Linked DNA regions of Homo sapiens. The protein of the gene in region 3 purifies or fractionates together with the protein of the main gene of each other region. This does not show direct contact. Each region holds a gene or a part of one and is shown on either strand. Other genes may lie near its edges. The genes, in order: CLCN7, SULF1, CGAS, NMNAT1, RAB3B, RAI14 and FAM111A.

The links.
Region 1: the proteins of CGAS (region 3) and CLCN7 purify together in Homo sapiens (affinity purification with mass spectrometry, with the first as the bait; one large-scale study listed by BioGRID). This does not show direct contact.
Region 2: the proteins of CGAS (region 3) and SULF1 purify together in Homo sapiens (affinity purification with mass spectrometry, with the first as the bait; one large-scale study listed by BioGRID). This does not show direct contact.
Region 4: the proteins of CGAS (region 3) and NMNAT1 purify together in Homo sapiens (affinity purification with mass spectrometry, with the first as the bait; one large-scale study listed by BioGRID). This does not show direct contact.
Region 5: the proteins of CGAS (region 3) and RAB3B purify together in Homo sapiens (affinity purification with mass spectrometry, with the first as the bait; one large-scale study listed by BioGRID). This does not show direct contact.
Region 6: the proteins of CGAS (region 3) and RAI14 purify together in Homo sapiens (affinity purification with mass spectrometry, with the first as the bait; one large-scale study listed by BioGRID). This does not show direct contact.
Region 7: the proteins of CGAS (region 3) and FAM111A purify together in Homo sapiens (affinity purification with mass spectrometry, with the first as the bait; one large-scale study listed by BioGRID). This does not show direct contact.

The regions. Positions count from the first base shown.
Region 1 is NC_000016.10:1,461,529-1,465,028, reverse strand, and holds part of CLCN7 (H(+)/Cl(-) exchange transporter 7), read left to right. Parts: intron 1-3,354; coding exon 3,355-3,426; intron 3,427-3,500. UniProt on the Homo sapiens protein: Slowly voltage-gated channel mediating the exchange of chloride ions against protons. Functions as antiporter and contributes to the acidification of the lysosome lumen and may be involved in maintaining lysosomal pH.
Region 2 is NC_000008.11:69,604,347-69,607,846, reverse strand, and holds part of SULF1 (extracellular sulfatase Sulf-1 isoform 1 precursor), read right to left. Parts: intron 3,045-3,500; coding exon 2,915-3,044; intron 1-2,914. UniProt on the Homo sapiens protein: Exhibits arylsulfatase activity and highly specific endoglucosamine-6-sulfatase activity. It can remove sulfate from the C-6 position of glucosamine within specific subregions of intact heparin.
Region 3 is NC_000006.12:73,425,755-73,428,297, forward strand, and holds part of CGAS (cyclic GMP-AMP synthase), read right to left. Parts: intron 1-2,543. UniProt on the Homo sapiens protein: Nucleotidyltransferase that catalyzes the formation of cyclic GMP-AMP (2',3'-cGAMP) from ATP and GTP and plays a key role in innate immunity.
Region 4 is NC_000001.11:9,941,986-9,946,274, forward strand, and holds the start of NMNAT1 (nicotinamide/nicotinic acid mononucleotide adenylyltransferase 1), read left to right. Parts: upstream 1-1,489; 5' UTR 1,490-1,530; exon of another isoform or gene 1,531-1,786; intron 1,787-4,027; exon of another isoform or gene 4,028-4,289. Other genes in the region: protein LZIC, read right to left, coding at 696-750.
Region 5 is NC_000001.11:51,984,201-51,987,700, forward strand, and holds part of RAB3B (ras-related protein Rab-3B), read right to left. Parts: intron 1-3,500. UniProt on the Homo sapiens protein: The small GTPases Rab are key regulators of intracellular membrane trafficking, from the formation of transport vesicles to their fusion with membranes.
Region 6 is NC_000005.10:34,662,828-34,666,327, forward strand, and holds part of RAI14 (ankycorbin), read left to right. Parts: intron 1-3,500. UniProt on the Homo sapiens protein: Plays a role in actin regulation at the ectoplasmic specialization, a type of cell junction specific to testis. Important for establishment of sperm polarity and normal spermatid adhesion.
Region 7 is NC_000011.10:59,141,643-59,145,655, forward strand, and holds the start of FAM111A (serine protease FAM111A), read left to right. Parts: upstream 1-1,213; 5' UTR 1,214-1,304; exon of another isoform or gene 1,305-1,327; intron 1,328-1,440; 5' UTR 1,441-1,662; exon of another isoform or gene 1,663-1,854; 5' UTR 1,855-2,053; exon of another isoform or gene 2,054-4,013. UniProt on the Homo sapiens protein: Single-stranded DNA-binding serine protease that mediates the proteolytic cleavage of covalent DNA-protein cross-links (DPCs) during DNA synthesis, thereby playing a key role in maintaining genomic integrity.

The DNA.
Region 1 (3,500 bases), on a different chromosome or scaffold from region 3:
ATGGGCAGCGAGGGGGCTGGACCTGGCTTTGGGACAGGGCAAGGACAGGGATCTTGGGGGGGCAGTGAGGAGCCCCAGGAGAGTGAGAGGGGGCCGGATGCCTCTGACTTCAGAGGGCAGGGGTTTAGATGTTCCCGTGCCAGTGGCTGCCCTGGGAGTCCTGAGCTCAGCGGCAGCGTGCTCGTCTTCCTTCCCCTCGGGGGCATCTCCCGCCGGCCTCGGTTTTTCCCCCAGCCGCTGGTGAGGCCGGGAGTCCTCTGCTGCCGCTGGCCGTTCACTCATCGTCTCTGGGTAGATGTCTGTGCGGGACTCCTGTTGAGATGATCCTGATGTTGGCAACACCCCGGGCGTCCTCCTTCTCCCCATCAGGCCCCACCTGGCTCTGCCCTGGGCCACGTCAGAGGCTGAGGCATCTCACAGTCCACCTGTCCGGGTGCTCTTCGGCCTTGCGTCCGTTTGAGCTCTGCCGCAGTCGCTCCCGAGGCCGGCGCCGTGCTCAGATGCCGTCCTGTACAGCCAGCAGCGCCTCTTCCGGGGCTGCCCTTCTGATACGTTTGTGCTGCCTCTGGAGCCACAAGGCCTTCGGAAGATCTGTTTCGTGGCCGTGGGCGCCTTCGGCACTGCCTTTTTGGACTTCAAAGCCTTTGCTCTGGTGTCAGCTTTGGGAGGGGCAGGAGTTGGGAGAGAAGGGAAAAAGCCAGCACGTGAGATTCAGCAATCAGTCCTCTCCTGTCTCAACCCTGGAGCGGGTGCCTGGCCGGCCACACGCGTGTTGGTTATGCTCATTTTTAAACTGGGTTTGTTGTCTTTATAATTGAGCTGCAGGAGTTCTTTATACATAGATGCAAATCTCTCATCCAATACATGATTTATAGAAGTTTTCTCCCGTTCAGTGGGTTTTCTGTTCACTTTCTCAGTGGTGTCTTTTGTTGCTCAAATTTATTTAATTAAAAAAGTTTTGGCCAAGGGAGGTGATTCGTGCCTGTAATCCTAGTACTTTGGGAAGCAGATGGATTCATTGAGCTCAGGAGTTCAAGATCAGCCTGATCAACATGGTGAAACCCTGTCTCTACAAAAAATATAAATATTAGCTGGGCCTGGTGATAGGCACCAGTAGTCCCAGCTACTTGGGAGGCTGAGGTTGGAGGATCACTTGAGCCCAGGAGGTGGAGGTTTCAGTGAGCTGAGATGGTGCCACTGCACTTCAGCCTGGGTGACAGAGTGAGATCCTGCCTCAAATTTTTTTTTTTTTTTCTGGGCAGGTGTGGTGGTTCACACCTGTAATCCCAACACTTTGGGAAACCAAGGCTGCAGCCCAGGATTTGGAGATCAGCCTAGACAACACAGTGAGACCCTGTCTCTACAAAAAACAAAAACAAAAACGAAAATTAGCCAGGTGTGGTGGTGTGCGCCTGTGGTCCCAGCTACTCAGGACGCTGAGGCAGGTGGATTGATCGAACCCAGGAGGTTGAGGCTGCAGTGAGCCATGATCACACCATTGTACTTCAGCCTGCGTGACAGACGGGACCCTGTCTAAAAAAATTAATTATTACTATTCTTTGAGATGAGGTCTCACTGTGTGGCCCAGGCTGAACTCCATCTCTCAGGCTCAAGCAATCCTCCCGTTTCAGCTTCTTCCTGAGGAGCTGGGACCACAGGTGCATCACACCCCGCACAGGTTGTATTGCTGAGGTTCAGCTAATCTGTTTTTTCTTGTGTTGCTTGTACTTTTGGTGTCAAATCTAAGAAACCATTGCCTCACCCAAGAGTATGACGACTGACCCGTTTTTTCCTAAGAATTTTACAGTTTTAGGTCTTTCATCCCTTTTGAGTTAATTTTTGGATGTGGTGTGAGGTAAGGGTCCAACGTCATACCCTCCCTCTCTCTCTCTCTTTTTTTGAGACAGGGTCTCACTGTCACCCAGGCTGGAGTGCAGTGGTGCAATCATGGTTCACTGCAGCCTCTGCCTCCTGTCTGTCTCCCAAGTAGCTGGGACTCAGGCGCATGTCACCATACTCAGCTAATATTTTGTAGAGATGGAGTCTTACTATGTTGCCCAGGCTGATCACAAACTCCTGGCCTCAAGCAGTCCTTCTGCCTCTGCCTCCCAGAGTGCTGGGATTATAGCTGTCAGCCATTGCGCCCGGCCCAGCTTCATTTTTGCATGTGGAAATCCAGTTGTACCAGCACCATTTGTTGAAAACACTACCTTTCTCTGTTGAAATGTTTTGACACTGTTGTGGGAAATCAATTGATCGTACATGTTTTGGATTTCTTTCTGGACTCTCTCAATTCTCTTCCATTCTTTTGTGGCCATCTTCATGCCAGTACCATGCCTGGTTTTTTTTTTTTTTTTTTTTTTGGCTTTTTTTTAAGAGTTGGGGTCTCACTGTGTTGCCCAGGCTGGGTGGATCACTTGAGGCCAAGAGTTTGAGACCAGCCTGGCCAACATGGTGAAACCCCGTCTCTACTAAAGATACAAAAATTAGCCAGGCGTGGTGGTGCACACCTGTAATCCCAGCTACTTGGGAGGCTGAGGCAGGAGAATGGCTTTAACCTGGAAGGCGGAGGTTGCAGTGAGTTGAGATCGCGTCACTGCACTCTAGCCTGGGCAAAAAGAGTGACTGTATCTCAAAAAAAAAAAAAAAAAAAAAAAAAAAAAGACAGATGAGGGTTTTACTCTGTTGCCCAGGCTGGTCTTGAACTCCTGGCTTCAGTTGATCCTCTTGCCTCTGCCTCCCAGAGTGCTGGGATTACAGGTGTGAGCCACCGCACCCGGCCTCATGGATTGATTTTTGGATGTTAAACTAACTTGTATTCCTAGGCTGAATTCACCTTGCTCCTGGCATTGCTGGAATCACTTTGCTTGTGTCTTACCAAAGATCTTTGCATCCGTGGTTGTAGGGGTGTTGGTCTGTAGTTCTCTTTTTTTTTTTTTTCTTTGAGACGGAGTCTTGCTCTGTCACCCAGGCTGGAGTGCAACGGCGCAATCTCGGCTCACTGCAACCTCTGCATCCCGGGTTCAAGCGATTCTCCTGCCTCAGCCTCCTGAGTAGCTGGGATTACAGGCGCCCACCACCACGCCCAGCTAATTTTTGTATTTTTAGTAGCGACAGGGTTTCATCTTGTTGTCCAGGCTGGTCTCGAACTCCTGACCGCAGCTGGTCCACTTGCCTCGGCCTCCCAAAGTGCTGGGATTGTAGGTGTCAGCCACCGCGCCCCATGTGCAGTTCTCTTGCTGTGTCCTTGTCCTTGGTGTCGGGATGATAATGGCCTCGTGTGTGAGCTGAGAGGGGCCTCTCTCCTTGTGGCCTTGTCAACTGTGCTTCTCTCTTTGCCTTTTTCTGCCACAGGATATGGACCCTCCACATCCCTTCCCCAAGGAGATCCCACACAACGAGAAGCTCCTGTCCCTCAAGTATGAGGTGGGCGTCCTTCTGTCCCCCTGACCCTGAGACCCGGCCTCTGCCCCCTGCCAGCCCACTCCCGGTCCCCTGTG
Region 2 (3,500 bases), on a different chromosome or scaffold from region 3:
GCAGGTCAGTTCTAGCCTCCGCTGCCACCTCGAACCTGAACAATTCAGTGTCATTATTCTGAATTTTCTTCTTCCTTTTTTAAAGTCAGGGATACTGTCGCCAAAAACAGATAATCTTCAAAGTAGCCAGAAAGAAAGAGCAAAAGGCCAAGATATAAAAAGTCGATAGAACACAACAGAGCTGCCTGGGCATGGAGGCTCGCTCCTGTAATCCCAGCACTTTGGGAGGTCAAGGTGGGTGGATCACTTGAGTCCTGGAGTTCCAGATCAGCCTGGGCAACATGGCAAAACCCCATCTCTAAAAAAGCACAAAAATTAGTCGAGCATGGTGGTGTGTGCCTGTAGTCCTAGCTACTCAGGAGGCTGAGGTAGGAGGATAACCTGAGCCCAGGAGGGCGAGGCTGCAGTGGGCCATGATCACGCCACTGCACTCCAGCCTGGGTGACAGAGTAAAACCCTGTCCCAAAGAAAACAAAACAACAACACACAACACAGCTATCAGGTTTGACCCACAGATTCAATAACTGCTTTAAAGATTAAGGCTCAAAATTTTCTTGAAGTTCTTAGATTCCTAAGCTATGGTTTGAGGGCCACCAGTAAACACAATCGTGGGTTAGAATAGTGCTTCTCAAACTTTAGGGAGCATCAGAGTCACCTGGAGGACTTGTTAACACACAGATTGCTGGGCTTCACCCCTAGGGGTTCTGATTCAGAAGGTCTGCAATAGCCAGAGAATTTGCATTTCTGACAAACTCTCAGGGATGCTGATCCTGCTGGTTCGGGATTAGAGTAACAATTCACTAGTGCTGTGGATACACTGAAGCTAGAGACAATCTGAAATACTCTCCAGGTCTTCACTTCTAAAGCTCACTCAGGCCCAATATAAAGAAATTCTATAGAAAGAAATCACCATCAGGGCATAGCCTAATTCTTTGTTCCACGAATTCAGGCCTTTCTAAAAGAGACCATTGCTGACGTTCTCATATATCCACATAATGGATCTAAATTCAGACTGATTCACAGCGAAATGAAACAGTGGAAGAAAATTCCAGATATGAAAGCATTTCATGGGGCCAAAACAAGTTCAAAAAATATGAAAAAGCAAAATTAAGTTTGTAACTTAGTTAGCATTCAGCTCGTGAGTGAAAAGCTTGTGCCAAAGTACCATAATCTGGTTTATGCTACATTTGCCCTTTAGGACATATATTAAAATTTTAGGGCAAGCCATATGGAGAGGTTTGTAAAATTACACACTGAAATGTAGGCAGTGTACCTTATTCCCAAAAGGCTATAATGTTCACCTCTTAGAGCTAAAAGAGTAACAAGATCACCAATTTGCATGAGATATATTTAACACTGAACATTTGCAACTCCTGAATAAAAGTAAATTAGTCTATTGAGGCTAGCTCATAAAAATCATCTTAGAGCTACAAAACAATTCTGAGGTTTTATTCATAATAATATTTGGAGGTTTCATAAGAAAGATTTGAAGACTTCAAATTAAAATATAATGAATAGGTCTCAGCTTTTCTCCACTAAACACTTGAAAATTAAGATGTACTAGAATGTAGTGAAGGCTTAGTTTTAGCCCTTCCTTCAACAGCTCTCCCTCCCTATCCTCTTCTATTTCAAAGGGATCCTGTGTACAAGAAAGCATGAGGAAATGCAGGGTATAAGGATCAAGTTGTTTATTAGGAATGTCTATTCAACAAGCTAGATACCATATAATAAGCGTATAATGAGTGAGGCCATTTTAATAATAACTTTGTTACCTACTCATTCCATGAGCCTGACATCTTGAACTGGTGTTGGTGAATTGTGTGGATATCTAGAGGTCAGTTAAGTTAAAAAAGACTCACAGATTTGAACTTCTCTTCACCTGGTTATTGTAACTTACCTTGGAAGGCAGCAAGTGGCCTGAGTTATTGAATCAGACAACTCCTGTTTGAATCCCAGCTGCCCATTTGTAAAATGGAGATGCCAATGCCCACCTCACTCTACAGTTGTGAGGATTAAATTGAGTAAATGCTACAAAATCCTGCGTACTGTGCCTGATGTAAGACAAATGCTCACTATGTGTTAGTATTTTTCACTTTCCTCTGATTTTGTTCTCAGCTGCAATGATTTGGGCCAAAGTTCAGTTCCTCTTGTCATGACACAGCATTTTCTTTTAGCTAGCATACATTTCAATCAAGGGCATTTAAAATCAATGGTTTTAAACTGGTTTAAATTCATACGTACTCACTTTCTTTAAAAGCAATGTTAATTCATCACACAGTATTTCTTTTATTCTTACTGATAATAACTGGTATTCTGGGTAGCTCTGGGGTCTATAGTAATATTTCTACTAACGAAGAGGATCTATTCTAATGAAATATTTGATGCCAGAATCTTTGTGAGCAGAAGTAGGAACAATAAACAAACAGAATATGGTTTCTCTTCTCATTCCTCAAGCTTGGTCACAGGCTCTGTCCTCTACTGGGGGTAAGATGACATTCTGACTTTAGCCTAGGGTGAAGGCCCTATCATGTCTCTTGGGGTGGTTCACTGCCAAGAGGCTCAGCACGTACCTGTGCTTTGACTAAGTAGCCTTTTGGCAACTCTTCAGTGACTAGTTAACAGGGACTATAACAGGAATCTTCTCCTCAGAGGAAACCAGTGTCTTTTGGCATAGAACTTTCTCTGAGATCATCATCTTTTTTAACTGGAGGGAGCCCAAGTAGTAATGGGGAGGCCCAGCCTGAACCAGTTACGTAATTCTGTCCGCGGAGAGGTGTCTCAGTGAGCTTGCCCTCAAGGCCACTAGGAAAAGCTTATTTATACACAAATGTACATTCTTTTATATGTGGACAATTTTCTAAATTAGAGATGGAGAAGCACATGAGTGGTGGTAAAGAAAGCCTGCGTCACTCACCTGCCCCGGTTGTTCACAGGCTGTCTGGTACCTGGCCTGCTGGCATAGTTCTTTGACCCGTTCATATTTGGGCAAGTGATTTGACTGTTGGATATTCTTGCTGGATTCTTCCTTCTTACGTAGAAATTTGCTTCGACAAAAAGGGAAAAGCTTCGTACATGAGAAGTGATCTGAATTACGGTCCCTGAGTCCTGCCCCCTTTTTTTTTTTACCCTGTCACATGACTCCACATTCTTTAAACAGCAAGAAATAGATGTTAAAGCTCTGTCTACAGGAGTTCAACATTTGATGGGTCCTTTATGAAAATGACAAACTGGGTAGGATGAAGATGAGAGGTCAGGAAAAGATTCGTTCTTCCCAAAAGCATTAATTTCAAAATTTGGGCATACATGTTTCATTTTACATGCTCAAAGTTCCTTTTGTTAAAAAAATTATACAAATATTTTCTCTCTCCTAATTTATGTACAGAGAAAAACAAGGCAATGGGTATTAATGAACCAAAAGGGGAAACCCAGAAGTGACAATGGAAATAATTACAATGGCATACATTTATCTATTTAAAACTAGGAAAGGCACACAAGGAAAA
Region 3 (2,543 bases):
ACCTAAGATCAAGAGTTTGAGTCCAGCCTGACTAATATGGTGAAACCCCGTCTCTACTAAAAATACAAAATTAGCTGGGCGTGGTGGCGCACGCCTGTAATCCCAGCTACTCTGCAGGCTGAGGCACGAGAATCGCTTGAAGCCAGGAGGCGGAGGTTGCAGTGAGCCAAGATCGCGTCATTGCACTCCAGCCTGGGCAACAAGAACGAAACTCTGTCACACACAGAAAACAAAAACAAAAACAAAAAAGCCGGGCGCGGTGGCTCATGCCTGTAATCCCAGCACTTTGGGAGGCCTAGGCAGGCGGATCACGAGGTCAAGAGTTCGAGATCAGCCTGGCCAGTATGCTGAAACCCCATCTCTACTAAAAATACAAAAATTAGCCAGGTGTGGTGGCGTGCACCTATAATCCCAGCTACTCGGGAGGCTGAGGCAGGAGAATCACTTGAACCCAGGAGGCAGAGGTTGCAGTGAGCCAAGATCATGCCACTGCACTCCAGCCTGGGCAACAAGTGAGACTCCATCTCAAAATAAAATAAAATAAAATAAAATAAAATAATAAAATAAAATGAAATAAATGAAATGAAATGAAATGATAAAATAAAATAAAATAAAATAAATACAACAGTCACACTAAAATCTGATTATGTTTTCAAATATATGGTTTGAAGTTTCAAAAACACATTTTTTCCCTCTCTTTCCCATTCTTAGCTTAAATATATTCTATGAATTTCTTCAACTGTATAAAGCTAACAGATATTTATACTATTTTTTTTTTTTTTGAGACAGGGTCTCACTCTGTCACCCAGGCTGGGATGCAGTGATACAATCTCGGCTCACTGCAACCTCTGACCCTCCCCTCACCCCCCTCAAGCGATCCAAAATCTTGTTTTGTTATAAAATTATTTTACTTTATTGAACTGCAAATTTAATATAAATTTTTTCTTTTCTAAAATCCACTGATTGTATCACAGAATTATTTACATTATTAAGAGTACCATAGATAATCTGCCATCTCATCTAGTTATTTAGTAGTTGACAAAATGTACTATTTATGAAACTATTTAGCCTTATCAACAATATTTCTTTTTTTTTTTCTTTTTCCTTTTTTTTTGAGATGGAGTCTCGCTCTGTTGCCCAGGCTGGAGTGCAGTGGTGTGATCTCAGCTCACCGCAACCTCTGCCTACTGGGTTCAAGCGATTCTCCTGCCTCAACCTCCTAAGTAGCTGGGATTACAGGTGCATGCCACCTCGCCCGGCTAATTTTTGCATTTTTGTAGAGACGGGGTTTCATAACGTTGGCCAGGCTGGTCTCGAACTCCTGACCTCAGGTGATCTACCTGCCTCGGCCTCCCAAAGTGCTGGGATTACAGGCGTGAGCCACTGTGCCTGGCCAACAATATAGTTTTCTTAATGCTTACTTCAAAGCCTGCATATGAGATCTTAAAGAACCTCTGTGCCTGCATGTTGGGCATTTTTGTTTTGACTTTTTAACTTTTGTGATCTTTATACTGGCCAACTTACTTTATTTATTTATTTATTTATTTATTTATTTATTTATTTAAGATGGAGTCTTGCTCTGTTGCCCAGGCTGGAGTGCAGTGGCATGATCTCAGCTTATTGCAACCTCTGTCTCCCGGGTTCAGGTGATTCTCTTGCCTCAGCCTCCTGAGTAGCGGGGATTACAGGCACGTGCCACTGCGCCCAGCTAATTTTTGTATTTTTAGTAGAGACGGGGTTTCGCCACGTAGGCCAGGCTGGTCTCGAATTCCTGACCTCAGGTGATCCACCTGCCCTGGCCTCCCAAAGTGCTGGGATTGCAGGCCTTGAGCCACCATGCCTGGCCAATACTGGCCAACTTTAGAAACTCAAATGAACAATTCCTTTTCAATCTTAGTTCTTTATGGTGTGTATGCCATCACAAAAAAAAATGGTGGGGTGCAGTGTCTCATCCCCGTACTTCCAAGACTTTGGGAGGCCAAGGCGGGAAGTTTACTTGAACCCAGGAGTTGGTGACCAGCCTGCCTGGGCAACAAAGGGAGACCACCATCTCTACCAATAAAAAAAATTTTTTTTGAGACAGGGTGTCACTATGTCACCCAGGTTGCAGTGCAGTGGCACGATCATGGCTCACTGCAGCCTTGATTTTCTGGGCTCGAGCCATTCTCCTACCTCAGCCTTCCAAGTAGCTGGGACCACAGGCACCAGTCACCATGCCTGGCTAATTTTTAAATTTTTTATGGAGGTGGGGTCTCACCATGTTGCTAGGCTGGGATTACAGGTGTGAGCCAACAGGCCCTCTACAAAATTTTTTTTTAAATTAGCCGAGCATGGTGGCATGCACCTGTAATCTCAGCTACTTGGGGGGCTGAGGTAGGATGATTGCTTGAGCCCAGGAGATCGAGGCTGTGGTGAGCCGTAATTGTGCCACTGCACTCCAGTCTGGGTGACAGAGTGAAAGTCTGTCTCAAAAAAAAAAATTACTCACTTAGTGTTGTTTTCAGTTTGGCCAATCAATCCCTAGCCGTCAACACAACCCAACT
Region 4 (4,289 bases), on a different chromosome or scaffold from region 3:
GGCTCACTGCAACCTCAGCCTCCTGGGTTCAAGCAATTCTCCTGCCTCAGCCTCTCCAGTAGCTGGGACTACAGGCATGCGTCACCACATCTGGCTAATTTTTGTATTTTTAGTAGAGATGGGGTTTCACCATGTTGTCCAGGCGAGTCTTGAACTCCTGACCTCTGGTGATCCACTTGCCTCAGTCTCCCAAAGTGATGGGATTACAGGCGTGAGTCACCGCGCCCAGCTCAAATCTTATTCTCTATTTAGCACTTATTTCTGCCTTTAATTATATATGATTTTATTATAATACGTTATCTCCTCTGACTAAACTCTGGAGAACAGAATATGAGTCTGATTCCTCTCTCAGCTTTCTCAGTACCTAATACAGAATAGAACGTCGATAATTTGGTCACGTATATAAAGGCTCAACATATTTTAAGGAGCTAAAGCTATTCTGAATACATTTCAGTAAAAATGGGTGCATTTTAAAAGCCTTAACCTGGTACTACATTAGTTGAGATTTATCCCCGAAAGATTAACTCGTTGGCACCACCTAGTAGTCACTAAATGTGGTGCACTTTTCACTTTTACGAAACTACAGAAACCGCTCTCAGACACTATATCTGGAGCGGAGGGTCCTCATTCATGCTCACCTGTCTCTTAGTACTCTGATCTCTGCACAGTGCCGACCGGTCTCAAATTGCACAAACCTCCAGTTCTTGACGTTCCGAGTGTCATAAACTTGAGGAAAATGAAATTATTCATCAGGACTACAAAAGGCTCAAAGTTCAAACCACCTCGGGGTGGAGATGCTGGAAAAAAGGAAACCATTAACAAGTAATTTTATTTGCTATATATAAACTTGCCCTAAGGCAGTCCAGATAACTTCCACTTGAGCAGCCTGAGACATCAAGGGCGGGGGCACTTTCCCCCTCGACTGCGCCTACCGCAGCCTTTCTGAGTTTCTTCCTAGCGAGGCCGAGAGGGTCTTTGAGGAAAATCCCGCATCCGGACACGCCTTGAGGGATGGCGTCAAACCCAGAGGCTTGGAAAAGGTAAGGGCGGAGAGCACGCCTCTTCCTTGAAAGTGAGGAGGGTTTGGCCCAGAACCAACAGGACTGGGTGAAGAATCAGCTCCGGCCACCGCAGCAAATCCCACCCCACGCGGGAACTTGAAGTCCGGCACGTAGGTCCCGCGGCGGCCGGGCTCCAACAGGCCCCAATTGCCACCAGAGGTAGCCGTAAACCCATGGTCCCCGAAACTCCTTCCGGGCCTACCTGACAAAAACTGGGACAACCTCCTTAGGCCCCCGGGATTCCCCCTGTGCCGCCTGACCGCCCGCCAGTCCCAGAGTTTAGGGCCAGGGGCCCCGCCTACCTGAGGGCACTGGCCTGGCGGACCGCGCCGGGGGAGCACTTCCGCTGGACGCACGCACTTCCGGCCCCCTGGAACCAATGAGAGTGCGACCGAGATGTTCCACTCGCTGGCGTCCGGGCCGCTGGTGATCTCCGGTAGCACTCGGGCCGGCGGACAGTGAGGGCGCGGTAAGCTCCCCGCAAGGAGCCCCTGAGAAACTGGTCGCTTTTTGTCCTAGATATAGGGGAGTCCAGGATGGTGTGGTGGAGTCTTTAGAGTCGAATATGACCCGAGGCAAGCTCATATTCAGGTTTGGGGCAAGGAGCTTTGATTGACCCTTAATTTTTTCAGTGGAACGGAAAACTTCGGTAAAATAGCTTCTGACCTTCGGAACAGATGGATTCACCTTGGAAAGGAAAAATCTCTTTCTAGAAGAGTCTTGAGGTCTGGCACCTTTAGGCTTAACGGGGGACGGCTGGGCGTCAGAGGAGGAAATCCTTCATTCCGAACGACTTCCCTTTCCTCCTAAATCCTTCTTTCCAAATCTGTAAAAGACTACATCTACTTTGCTGGAGGTGGTTTGACACTCATGCTCCTTGAGAAGGAGGTAATGAGCTGTAGGGCAGCTCTTAAAAAGTTACCCTTGGACGGGCGCGGTGGCTCACGCCTGTAATCCCAGCACTTTGGGAGGCCGAGGCAGGCGGATCACGAGGTCAGGAGTTCGAGACCAGCCTGGCCAACATAGTGAAACCCCGTCTCTACTAAAAATACAAAAAATTAGCTGGGCGTGGTGGTGGGCGCCTGTAATCTCAGCTACTCGGGAGGCTGAGGCAGGAGAATCGCTTGAATCCTGGAGGCGGAGGTTACAGTGAGCCGAGATCGCGCCATTGCACTCCAGCCGGGGCGACAGTTCGAGACTCCATCTCAAAAATAAAAATAAAAAAAAGTTACCCTTGGCTGTCGCGGTGTGACACCTGTAAACCCAGCACTTTGAGAGCCCGCGGTGGGAGGATCATTTGAGCCCAGGCTGGGCAACATAGCAAGACCCTCATAACAAAAAATTAAAAATAAAATTACCCAGAAACTGGTTGGAACTATTTAATGATGTTCTTAGTCCATCTTCCTGAAGTAGTCCACAGAACAACATCAGTGTTCATGGTAGAATTGTTTCATCAGGGCAGTTTTTTTTTAAGTAACAATGTCTTGTTAAAAAACAAGAGCTGTGTTGCCCAGGCTGGAGTGCAGTGGTGTGATCATAGCTCACTGCAGCCTTGAACTCCTGGGCTCAAGCGATCCTCTGGCCTTGGCCCCTCAAAGTGTTGTGGTGATTGGCACAAGCCACCGACAGGCCTGGAGTCTGAAGTTAGTTATATTTCAGCTACCCAGGATAAACTTCTAACTATGATTACCACAGAACTCTACCAAAACTAATTGTTTCACTTAGTTCTGTCTGATTATGGAATCTCTTTATTACCATCAGTTGTTTTTCAGAGTTACAATTTGAATATGAAACCATTTTTCTAGCCCACCTTAGAGAAGACTGTTGACACACTAGTTGAAATGGTTGCAATAGCCTCTACCTTGCAAGACACTTCAGATTCAAAGAATTTCCTTTGCAAAAGTCGGCCGGGTGCAGTGGCTCATGCCTGTAATCCCAGCACTTTGGGAGGCCAAGGCGGGCAGATCACTTAAGGTCAGGAATTCAAAACCAGCCCGGCCAACATGGTGAAACCCCATCTCTACTAAAAATACAAAAATTAACCAGGCGTGGTGGTCCATGCCTGTAATCTTAGCTACTCAGGAGGCTGAGGCATGAGAATCGCTTGAACTCAGGAGGTGAATGCTGCAGTGAGCCAAGATCACGACGCTGCACTGCAGCCTGGGTGACAGAGCAACTCCGTCTTAAAAAAACAAAACAAAACAAAACAAAAGAAGAAAAAAATAAAAGTACCTATTAATGCAATTATCTTTCAATTTTGATTCATAAATATGTGTGGAAGTGTCAATGTTTTGGGTAAAATGGAATTCACAGTGACAGAGTCAGTGCCATACAAAACAAAACTGGAAAATATACTTTAAAAAAATTATTTGAGCTGGGTGTAGTGGCTCACACCTGTAATCCCAGGACTTTGGGAAGCCGAGGTGGGCGGATCACGAGGTCAGGAGTTTGAGACCAGCCTGGCCCCTATGGTGAAACCCTGTCTCTACTAAAAATACAAAAAATTAGCTGTGCATGGTGGCGTATGCCTGTAGTTCCAGCTACTCGGGAGGCTGAGGCAGGAGAATTGCTTGAACCCGGCAGGCGGAGGTTGCAGTGAGCCGAGATCGTGCTCTTCAGCCTGGGCTACAGGGTGAGACTCGGTCTCAAAAAAATAATAATAATAATTTGAAAAATTTGCTGAATAAACATTTGTTCACAGTGTACTTTCCCTGATTTTTTAATTTTTGTTTTTGTTTGCCCTGTCACCCAGACTGGAGTACAGTGACACGAGCACGGCTCACTGCAGCCTTAATCTCTCAGGCTCAAGTGATCCTTGCACCTCAGCCTCCCTAGTAGCTGGGACTTCAGGTGCATGCCACCACATCCGGCTAGTTTTTGTATTTTTTGTAGAGATGAGGTTTTGTCATGTTGCCCAGGCTGGTTTCAAACTCCTGGGCTCAAGTAATCCTCCCACCTTGGCCCCGCAAAGTGCCGGAATTACAGGCATGAGCCACCCCACCCAGCCTTCCCCTAATTTTGATAATGATAATCCAATGTTCTGTTCTGGCATTTGTGTAGTTTTAGCGTGTGCAGTCTTCGAAGCAGTGGAGGTATTTGCCTTTTCTTCTCTGTGACTTAGTCATTCAGCAGTTCTATGCTAAGGGTTTTTTTATATGCCTTTAGGTTCTTGTTTAGAGTTAATGGATAATGAAAACATTTCTAATGCATAAGAGAAATGCATTCTGA
Region 5 (3,500 bases), on a different chromosome or scaffold from region 3:
TTACAGTGAGCGGAGATTGTGCCACTGCACTCCAGCCCAGGCAACAGTGGAGACTCTCTAATTAAAAAAAAAAAAAAAAAAAAAAAAAAAAAAAAAAGCATGAACGAGACTTTGAAAACTCTAAAAAAACATCATTTCAGTTGACTACATTATATTCCATCCTATAGATGTGTCATAAGACCAATTCTTTTTTTTTTTTTTTTTTTTTGAGACAGAGTCTTGCTCTGTCACCCTGGCTGGAGTGCAATGGCACAATCTTGGCTCACTGCAACCTCCAACTCCTGGGTTCAAGCGATTCTCCTGCCTCAGCCTCCCAAGTAGCTGGGACTACAGGTGCTCACCATCACACCGGCTAATTTTTGTATTTTTAATAGAGATGGGGTTTCACCATGTTGGCCCAGCCAGATCAATTATTTAATGTTGTCACTCTCTTTAGGAAGTTGTTTTTAAGTTGTTTTTCTACTCTTAATTATTATACATGAAACTGCAGTGAACATTTCTTTACATAAATTTTTGTACATTTTCCTAATTACTTCCTTGAGAGAGATTCCTTGAAGTGGAATTGCTGGTCAAAGAGTCACTACTAAAACATAAATGTGATCTTTACCACAATTTCATATCCTTTATCTTCTTTTATCTCTAAATAAACCTGGGAAATAAAGCTGGAAAGACGTGGATTATTATTTCCATTTGATCAAGAAGGAAACTGAAAATGAGAAATTAAAAGGATTTGCCCAAATCTCATAGCTAACAGCCGAGACTAGACTTAGTACCCTGCAGTGTTATGAAAAAGTTTAAAATCAATGCTCTACCCTCAGATGAATTCTTAGGTAAGTCATATTGCCTCTCTAAGCCACAGCACTTTTACCTTAAAATAGAGAAAATACCACCTACTTCACAGAGCTTGGTACAAATAGAAAGAGTAGTACTATACGTAAACAATCTGACACAGTTTCTCGGCCCATGGAGGTACTGAATACATATTATTTCACTGGCCCCTTTAATTCACTTCTGCAGGCAAATCTTGTTCAACTGCCCTCTCCCTGATTGTGGCTCCATTATTTGGGCCTGTTTTACAATTAACTGTTTGCTCTCTCTTCTGGATTCAAGGGGGCTTTATCCATCCTTACATCTGGTCAACGCTAGACCTACAGTAAATCCTTAGAGGGTGTTATGTCTTTCAAGAAACACATATAGAGCATTTTTCAAGTGCCAGACTATCAGTGTAAATGTCAGATTACTGGTTTTCACTTTTCTGATGTAGCCCAGCTTCACACTCTTAAACTGCTAGAATTAGAGGGGACTTTGGAGTAGCAGCTTTTTATTGTAACAAAAAGCCTGGCTACTGGGCCCAGCTTTCCCAGTAACTCAGTGTGTAAACTTGGCCTAGTTACTTAAATTCTATGCCTCAGTGTCCTCATCTGACAATAATACTTACTTCACGAGGTGCTGTGAATTTTAAATAAGAGAACGTATATAAGTATGTTTCATACACTGTGCTGAGAAAAATACATGTAGCCTCGTGTAGAATCAGTGAGAAATTTGCCTGCCTTTATTAGCTGTGACTGCCACAGATAGGAGACTAGGAAGTGATGGCAAGAGTAAAAAATTGTTTCAGTTCCTGATCTACCTCCGTTTATCTTACAGGTAAAAAAAAAAAAAAAAAATTGAGGCTCTGCAAAGACAAGTGATTTGTCCAAGCTCACACAGCAAGTCAGTTGGAGGGTCATGAATGGAACTTCTGTTACCTAATGGCTTCCAGGTTTGACGGGATTAAGGAAAACGAAAACCACAACAATTTTAGGGTGAATAAAGAAGCATCCTGGCTGGGCATGGTGGCTCATGCCTGTAATCCCAACACTTTGGGATGCCAAAATGGGAAAATCACTTGAGGCCAGGAGTTCAAAACCAGCCTGGGAAACATAGTGAGATTCCATTTCTACGAATTTTTTTTTTTTTTTTTTTTTTGAGGCAGAGTCTCACTCTGTCGCCCAGGCTGGAGGGCAGTGGCGCGATCTCAGCTCACTGCAAGCTCCGCCTCCCGGGTTCACGCCATTCTCCTGCCTCAGCCTCCCGAGTAGCTGGGACTACAGACACCCGCCACCATACCCGGCTAATTTTTTGTATTTTTACTAGAGATGGGGTTTCACCGTGTTAGCCAGGATGGTCTCGGTCTCCTGACCTTGTGATCCGCCTGCCTCGGCCTCCCAAAGTGCTGGGATTACAGGCGTGAGCCACCGCGCCCAGCCAAAAAAAGTTTAAATTAGTCGGATGTGGTGGTGTGCACCTGTAGTCCTCGGTACTTGGGAGGCTGAGGCTGGAAAATCACTTGAGTCCAGAGGTTCGAGGTTAGAGTGAGCTATGATTGCACCACTGTATCCCAACCTGGGTGACAGAGTGAGACCCTATCTCTAAAAATAAAAATTAAAAAAAAGAAGCATACCCAACATCCTGAGTGTCCTGCTACCGTACTGTACTTGCCATACCACACTGTTAACATCTGCTTATGCACACACAGCATGGCTTTCCCAGTAGGTGGTGTGAGAACGGGGAGAGGCAGAGAGCTGAGTTCAGTTGGAAGGCTCATTCAGATGGAAGCCCCCAAGGGGATCTTCTTAGGAGGGGGCGGCCAGGGGCTACTCAGACATTTGGAAGACAGGCAAAAAGCATCCCAGCAGGCAGCTGCCTGAGGCAGATCTAAGCAGACAGGTCATGCACAGTGGTGCATGCAGAATTGCATTTGTAAGATAAGCATCAATCAAATCTTTCCTCTATTTTGTGACAGTCACATAAAATGATAGAGCTATCTCCGTGACAAGCAATACAGATGAAGGCCCAGGGACCATCTGGGAAGTCGTCCCTGTCCCAGGCTGGGGGAAAGAAATGACTCCTCAAAGGGTGGCTGTGAAAAACAACCCTTTCAGTCTGATAGGCGGCAGAAATAAGCACCTAAGGAAGAAGCCAACTTCAGCCAGGAAAGAGCGGGGAGGAGGAGGAGAGAGCCCTAAAATCCAGCGAGAAGAGATCAGCTCAATAAATGGAGTGAAGAAGTGAATGAAGGAACTTACCTTTTGTTGCAAAGAACATGAGACTGAGTCCAAGAGACCTGGCATTTGAAAGATAAGCCCTGGCTCTTTCAGTGATCCTGTAAACTTAGGCAAATCACACCCCTGGCCTCAGTTTCCTTATCTATAAAAGGAGCTCATAAAATGGCTTCCTGGCAAAACTGTTGCAAGAATTAAAACCTGTATATGGGAGGGTGTTTTATTAACCCCTTATTTTGTTTGTTTGTTTGTCTCTGTGCTTCATGGTTTCTTCTAGCAAGTCATCCTGTGTAGTGGAAATAGTTTGGAGCTCCAAATCAAACAAACTAGATTCAGTTTCCAGGTCTATCATTTATTACCTATGAGACCTTGGCAAGAAATGTTACATGATTAAGACAGTTTCCTCATTCATAAAACAAGTGTTGTTGGGAAAATTATAGGTAATGTGGGTTATAC
Region 6 (3,500 bases), on a different chromosome or scaffold from region 3:
AATCAATTCTCCTGCCTCAGCCTCCTGAGTAGCTGGGACTGCAGGTACATGCCACCATGCCCGGCTGATTTTTGTATTTTTAGTAGAGATGGGGTTTCATGTTGGCCATGGCTGGCCAGGCTGGTCTCGAACTCCTGACCTCAAGTGATCCACCTGCCTTGGCCTCCCAAAGTGCTGGGATTACAGGTGTGAGCCACCATGCCCAGTTTAAAGATATTTCTTCCCTTTGTAGTTAGTCATGAGCTGAAAAGTACAGGTGGTTCAACAAAAGATAAAAATTGTTCATCAAATGTCAATTTTCTAGCTCCAGCCATCTACAATGAACAAAAAAATTAGCCTCGTCTTTGACATCAGGCCCACTGAGAGATATCAGCAAATCTAATCAGTATTTTAAAAAGTAACTTTTGGCCAGGCATGGTGGTTCACACCTGTAATTCTAGCACTTTGAGAAGCTGAGGCAGGAAGATCACTTAAGCCCAGGAGTTAAGAGACCAGCTTGGGAAACATGGCGAAACTTTGTCTCTAAAAAAATACAAAAATTAGTTGGGCATGGTGGTGCATTCCTGTAGTCCCAGCTACTCAGGAGGCTGAGGTGGGAGGATCACCTCAACCCATGAGATCGAGGGTTGCAGTGAGCCAAAATCTTACCACTACACTCCAGCATGGGCAACAGAGTGAGACCCTGTCTAAAAAAATAAATAAATACAAATAAAAAGTAACTTTACTGACTTAACCATGTGTTTAAAAACAAAGCAGTACCTTCTTCTGTTTAACTGAAGGAAGCATGCCTTGTTCTTCAATTTTATATTCTATGTGTCCAGTAGAGTATCTGCCACACAGTAGGAGATTAACATCTCTCAACTACTCCTGCCTCAGAGGTCATTAAGCCCCTCATGGCGGTCATCAGATATAGAGTTGTCCTAGTCTAGAGGAGAATTAAACAATAATCAAAAGGCAGAAATCAGCAACAAAGTGCGAAGTCGAAGTTCAGAAGATGTGAAAGAAACACTTTTCCTCCTTATCCACTCTTTGCGGAAGTTTGTGCATTGTGTCTTGATTGATTCACCAGCTGGGTTTTTGTGATCAGTGTCACCTCATCTAACCTTACTTGCGATCTAGGCCAGTCCCTTCTGTAGTGAATGGCATTCACTGGAAATTAGTCTTGCCGTATAATTCCATGACCATATGTCACACCGGGGCAAGGGGACACCTTTGGGAAGTTCTTCATGATTTGCTAATCCCTGCTTCTAAATAAGCAGAATCTAGTTGTGAGAAAAGGTGGTTGTAGTCCAAGAAGCTTACTGTACAGTGGAAGGAAATACATGGGCTCTTTTTTTTTCTTTCCTTATTTATTTATTTATTTTCTTAAATTGACATTTAGGCCAGGCACAGTGGCTGCTGCCTGTAATCCAAGCCCTTTGAGAGGCTGAGGAGGGCAGACCACTTGAGCTCAGGAGTTCAAGACCAGTCTGGGCAACATGGCACAAAACCCCATATCTACTTTAAAAAAAAAAAGTATATTTATATTGCAGTGAGCCAAGATCACACCACTGCACTCCAGCCTGGGTGACAGCGAGACACTGTCTCAAAAAAAAAAAAAAAAGGAAAGAAAAAAATTGACATTTAGTGAACACCAAAGCTTATTATCAAGGAACCAGTTTCCCTTACACTTATTTATTATATTACCTTTTAAAGCTCAACTTAATTTTTCATATCCATTTTAGGTATTGTTATCGATAAGATATTCTGTTTTCTTATGATCTAGATAAGTTCAATTTGCTTAATTAATTTATTTATTAAATTTTTTATTTCCATGGGTTATTGGGGAACTGGGTGTTTGGTTACATGAGTAAGTTCTTTAGTGGTGATTTGTGAGATTTTGGTGTACCCATCACCTGAGCAGTATACGCTGCATCCTATTTGTAGTCTTTTATCCCTCACTCCCTTCCCACCCTTTCCTCCTGAGTCCCCAAAGTCCATTTTGTCATTCTTATGCCTTTGCATCCTCATAGCTTAGCTCCTACTTATGGGTAGGAATGTACGATGTTTGGCTTTCCATTCCTGAGTTACTTCACTTAGAATAATAATCTCCAATCTCATCCAGGTCACTGTGAATGCTATTAGTTCACTCCTTTTTATGGCTAAGTAGTATCCATCATATATATATATATATGTGTATATATATATATATGTGTATATATATATGTATATATATGTGTATATATATGTGTATATATATGTGTATATATATGTGTATATATATGTGTATATATATGTGTATATATATGTGTATATATGTATGTGTATATATATACACATATATATGTGTGTGTATATATATATATACACACATATATATATGTATATATATACACACACCACAGTTTCTTTATCCACTCATTGATTGATGGGTATTTGGGTTGGTTCCACGTTTTTGCAATCAGTTTGCTTAATTTAGCTGTTCTTTTCAAAGAGATAATAACTCTAAAACTAACAAGCAGCATCTACCTCTTTTCACTTTCACTAAGTCTGTCCAGTTCCTTTTGCTGGCTGAAGTGATAGACACTCAGAAAACAGGCAGTGTTAACTGATGGAGAATAAAAGGCCAGAGAAGCCTCCTTTTGCACTAGGGCAGCACAGAGTAAAGTGTTTTCCATTTTTTTTTCTTTTTTTTTTTTTTTCTCTAAGAGGAATCCATTTGCAAACCAGAGAAAACCATCCAGCAGTGATTCTTAAATATTCGTGAGGCATAGATGGACACTTGCAAATCTGATGGGGGTTTTGGACCATTCTTCCTTGGAGAAACTGATGTATGTACAATGATGCTATAAATTCATAATTTTTATCAGTCTCATGAGTTTCATGGAACTCCTTGCCCTAAGGCCATTTATAAACCTCCTTGGAATACCCAGGTTAAGAACCCACAATGACCACCTCTCAAAGTTTGAGAATACAATTACAAGGGCTCTATTTTTCTATCATGTGCCGCTATTCCCCACCCCACTGCCACCCACAGTTCGAAAACCTATCATACATGAGTGAAAAGTAATAATTGTGGGTTTTATACTCTCAATTTGAAAACTAGTCATCGGTTGCTATGTCAACCAGTCAACATACTATTGACCATTTTTAGGATCTATTTCTATTGGATGTAATAAAATGCAATTTATATGCAATGAAAAGGTGGTTTTGTAATATGACTATTTCACAGAGACCTGATGAATTCTAAGGATGAGTCTTAAGTTTCTCACCCCAAGGAGTTGGGTCTGTTCTGTCTTCAGCTTTTGGTGGCAGCAGTTTCCCAGTTTTGCTGTTAACAGGAAGGAATGGAGATGTCCCAGGCCCCACCTGACAATTCTTGTAGTCTCACAGGAGATGTCCTGCGCCCCACTTGACAATACTCCTAGGCTCACAGTAGGTGTCCCAGGCAACCCCTGACAGTACTCCTAGGCTCACAGATGTCCCGGCCCCCCGACAGTACTCCTAGTCTCACAGTAGGT
Region 7 (4,013 bases), on a different chromosome or scaffold from region 3:
TGTTAAGCCTATTGTCCTTTAATCACTATTTGCTTACACATTAAAATGTAAAACAGGCAAAAGAGAAAGAAGGAAGAAAGGAGGGAGGGAGGGAAGGAGAAAAGTGAGAAAGAAAGAAAGATAAAAGAAAAAAGAAAGAAGAAAGAAAGAAAGAGAAGAAATAAAGAGAAAAAAGAAAGGAAGAAAGGAAGGAAGGAATGAAGAAGAAAAGAAAAAAGAGAAAGAAAGAAGGAAAGAAAAAGAAAAAAAGAAAGAGAAAGAAAGAAAGAAAGAGAAAGAAAGAAAGAGAGAGAGAGAGAGAAAGAGAGAGAAAAGAAAATTTTCTCCAGATTAGAATTATTGGCTGCTATTGTTTGGATGCTGGGTACTAGCTGTGATTACCCTTTGTGAATGTAGGAATGCACAGATTCCAAAAGTGAGTCTCATAGAAAAAGTCAGCATTCAAATATGTTTTAAGGTTACTCTATCCAAACCCCAAAGAACCCACAGAAGATGAAGCAGTAATTTTAGCTTCTCTTGGTGTATTGTACATGCATTTAAGGCCAGTTCCTTCCTTCAAATTCCCATGTGTTTTGTAGTTACCAACACACCTTTCAACCCTATCTGTTTATATACATCATATAGTCCTCTGTCAATTGCATAAAAGTTGTCCCCTTTGTGACTGTAATCGCCTTTTCCAATACACATCTACTCAGAATGCAGGTCCTTAAACAGCAGGCTGCCTTGAAAACCCTCTCCAATCTTCTTCGATCATCAGCTTTGAGATGCATATTCCTAGAGCCCATATCATCTTCTTCATCACTATCATAAACGTCTCCACATATTGATGAACGTTTGGAGAATCGATTTATGACAAGGGAGTTTACTCTTCCTGCATCCGCGGCTTCTTCGTGATTTTGTCCTAGTCACCGGGCCTATCCCACCTGCTGGGGATGCCGCCCCCTCGGAAGTGCCTGAAATCTCCCCACTTACCCAACTAGCCTCAGCGCCTCCTGTGTGCTGCAGCAGATGGCGCGCTGCAGACCCCAGCCTGGTGCCTCCGCGACTCCTCCCCAACCATGATTTACAGGCGGGGACAGCCACATTCCTGCGCCCCAACTTCCACCTCCGCTTCCTGCGCGCGCGAGACTCAAGCTGCCACAGTGGCTCTGCCGCCAGCGTCCCAGCTCCTCCCACACCCGAGTTTTTATTTCCTGCTCCCTCTCCAGCCCGGCCCAGGCCAGCCTACCGGCGACTAGGATGCTTTCGCTTTCGCTCTCGCTTTCCAATACTCGGGACTGGGGAAACCGGGAGAATAGAAGCAGGCAAGGACCGCCGTGGGCACGGGGTCAGTGAGACAGGGTCCTGCTCGCGGCGTCAAGGAGGAGCGCTGTGGGTGGGTAGGGTAGGCGCGCCCCCTCGGCCTTGCCTTTCCAACCACTCTTTTTTGCACGCCAACAGGTGTCCCCAGCGCAGCCAATCGGCTTCCGAAGTAGGTGAGTTGCTGCCTGAAGAGAAAAGACAAACTCCAGTATCTTTCATTCCATTGGCCAGACGCGCCATTCCCCAAGTGAGTTCTGTTCTCCAACCAAAGTGCTGGATTCCAAGGGACTGGAAGGGAAAGTCCCTAAAAATCACGAGTTCAGGCGTCTGAGACTTGGTGGGAACGGACCTTCCTCTTAGGTGAGTTACTCTTTGGTTCTGGGGCTGACCTGGAGTTTTGCCAGGATTCATTGGCCGCAGCAGGATGCTGGTGGGGACAGGGTAAATAAAATCTGCACTCCTGCGGGCTTTTATTGTTGAAAGGGGCACTGACGCTCTCCCTGGAAACTTAAAAAGAACAGCCAAGTGAACGGATGTGTCTTTCTTTTGCAGTGCCCAAGCCTGTTCTAATTTTTAAAAACTGATGTCTATTAAGACCCAATGTTAACTTTATGAAAATGGTTCCTAAGGAGATTCACATCTCTGTGTCCGAATTCTGTGTGCAGCAAACATCATCTCAAGTGCGTTTTCCCAACTACGCTTCTTTCCAGGATAAAATACTCTAAGTGACAAATGTTGAGTACATTATCAGGTATGTTCACTATTGTGAGAACTGAAGCCATCTACACTCACATAGCTTGCCAACTACATTAACCTGACTTCTTATTCCATTATTTTCATCAACATACATTTACTATTTCAAGAAACTTTTGCCAGGGACCGGAAAGTTGCAAATATCTTTATTGCTTAATCCAGTATCTTCTTCAAAGATCCAACCACTCTTCAATGGAAAACATCAAAGAACAGTTTACATTCTAAGACTTTGAACCTTTACCTCAAAATCCTAGCCTTGTTTTATCTACCAATCCTAAACTTTTACCCGTAGCTGACTCAATTCTAACCAATTCCCCTCATTAAATATTAGACTTACAATGGGACTTCAAAATCTCAATACATATAGCCCAAACTTGCTCTTCCCTCTCTGAGACACCACTTAAATTCTGTCAAGTTATTGTTCTCCATTACCTAAGTGAGCAAGAAACTTAGCTTTGTCTTATCAACAGGTTGCTTTGATATTACTGGGAGCCAACATTTGACATTCTTGGAGGCTCCAGCAAGACCTAATCAACCTCCCAACCCTCAACTCAGAATCAGTGTGTGCCCTGAAGTCCCTTCAACCTTCTTGAGGCTCTCCCTGATCTCAAAGGTGGAGAAAGTAGATCTTGCATCAGGTTGAACTCCAGTTTCTTTTTGCTCAGTTTTTCAAGCGCTGAGTTTATTTTGTCCCTAGGCATAAAGAAATCTTTCTAGGAACCCCTTTGGTTATGGGACCAGATTTTTAAAAGCTTTTTAGGCTTGGTGAAAAATCTGCCTTATCACTAGCAACACTACGACTTGTCTCTGTTCTTGTTTTTTGTTGTACTCGTGTAAAAGAAAAGTTCAAGGGAAGAGAACAGGCTCAAGTCTACTTCTCACGCTGGCTCTGGGGATTAGGAAATTCAGAAAGTTTTGTTTCAGACTGGCAGTGCTGTCTGATATAAACACAGCGTCAAGTACTGCACGCTGTAGCTACCTGAGGTTTAGGCCGGAAGAGGCACGGCTGATTTAAAAGTGAAAGAAAGTAACCAATTGGTTCGCAGACAACCTTTTCCCAAAAGGCGGGCGATTCAAACCCCTAGCCCCACCTGCTCCGTTTCCCGCCCAGCTGGAGCTCTGGAGCCTTTGCTTCCTCAAATACGAGCGGGAACTGCGTTGAGCGCTGGATTCCAGGCCGAGTGCTGGCGAGGCGCGCAGTGAGTGAGCACACAGGGCGCTGGGGTGCTCCGCGGGGCGCGGTCACGGGCGCGGCCGCGGCGGGCTCGAGTCCCGGCTGGGAGGAGAAGGAGCTGGGTGTCAGGAAGCCGGGGACTGACAGCGCCACCCATCTGGGGAGCCGGGAGGACACAGGTTTTATTTTGGTAGTGCTGCAAGTCCCCTTGTGTGCTGGGGGGAGCGGGGCGGCGTGGTAGGATTGGAAGAGGCTTAGAGTTGGCCTCGACCCCTGCCCTTGCCCCTGGAAAGGCAGAAAGTGGGGGTTGGGGTGCGGAGAAGCAGGAAGAGAGGGAGAGTGAAGGAGGGGAGGAAAGGGAGAGAGGAAGAGGGAGAGTGAAGGAGGGGAGGAAAGGGAGAGAGGCAGAGAGGGGGAAGGAGAGAGGGAAGGAAGGAGAGATTGAGAGACAGAGAAATTCCTAAGGGGAGCTGTCAGGTGGGCTGGACATGGGCCCCAGGCTGCACTGCTTTATCCCTTTGCTGTAGGAAGTCAAGCAAGTTCTTTAGGTAAGTAGAACCTTGATGTCAAGTATAAAACAGGGGTTGGTATAGGATAGCTAAGAGCACTTTATATTTTGATATAATCTGATTTATCCTGGATACTGAAAACAATGTAGGGAGACGGAGGATATTGGAGTGTTTTCTTAACCTCTTGCCCCTTTCCACTGTGATTGCTCAAGTACATGCAAAATTAATGTTTCTTTCTGCCCATTTTATTTTCCTTTTTTTGTCTGTGTCTATTA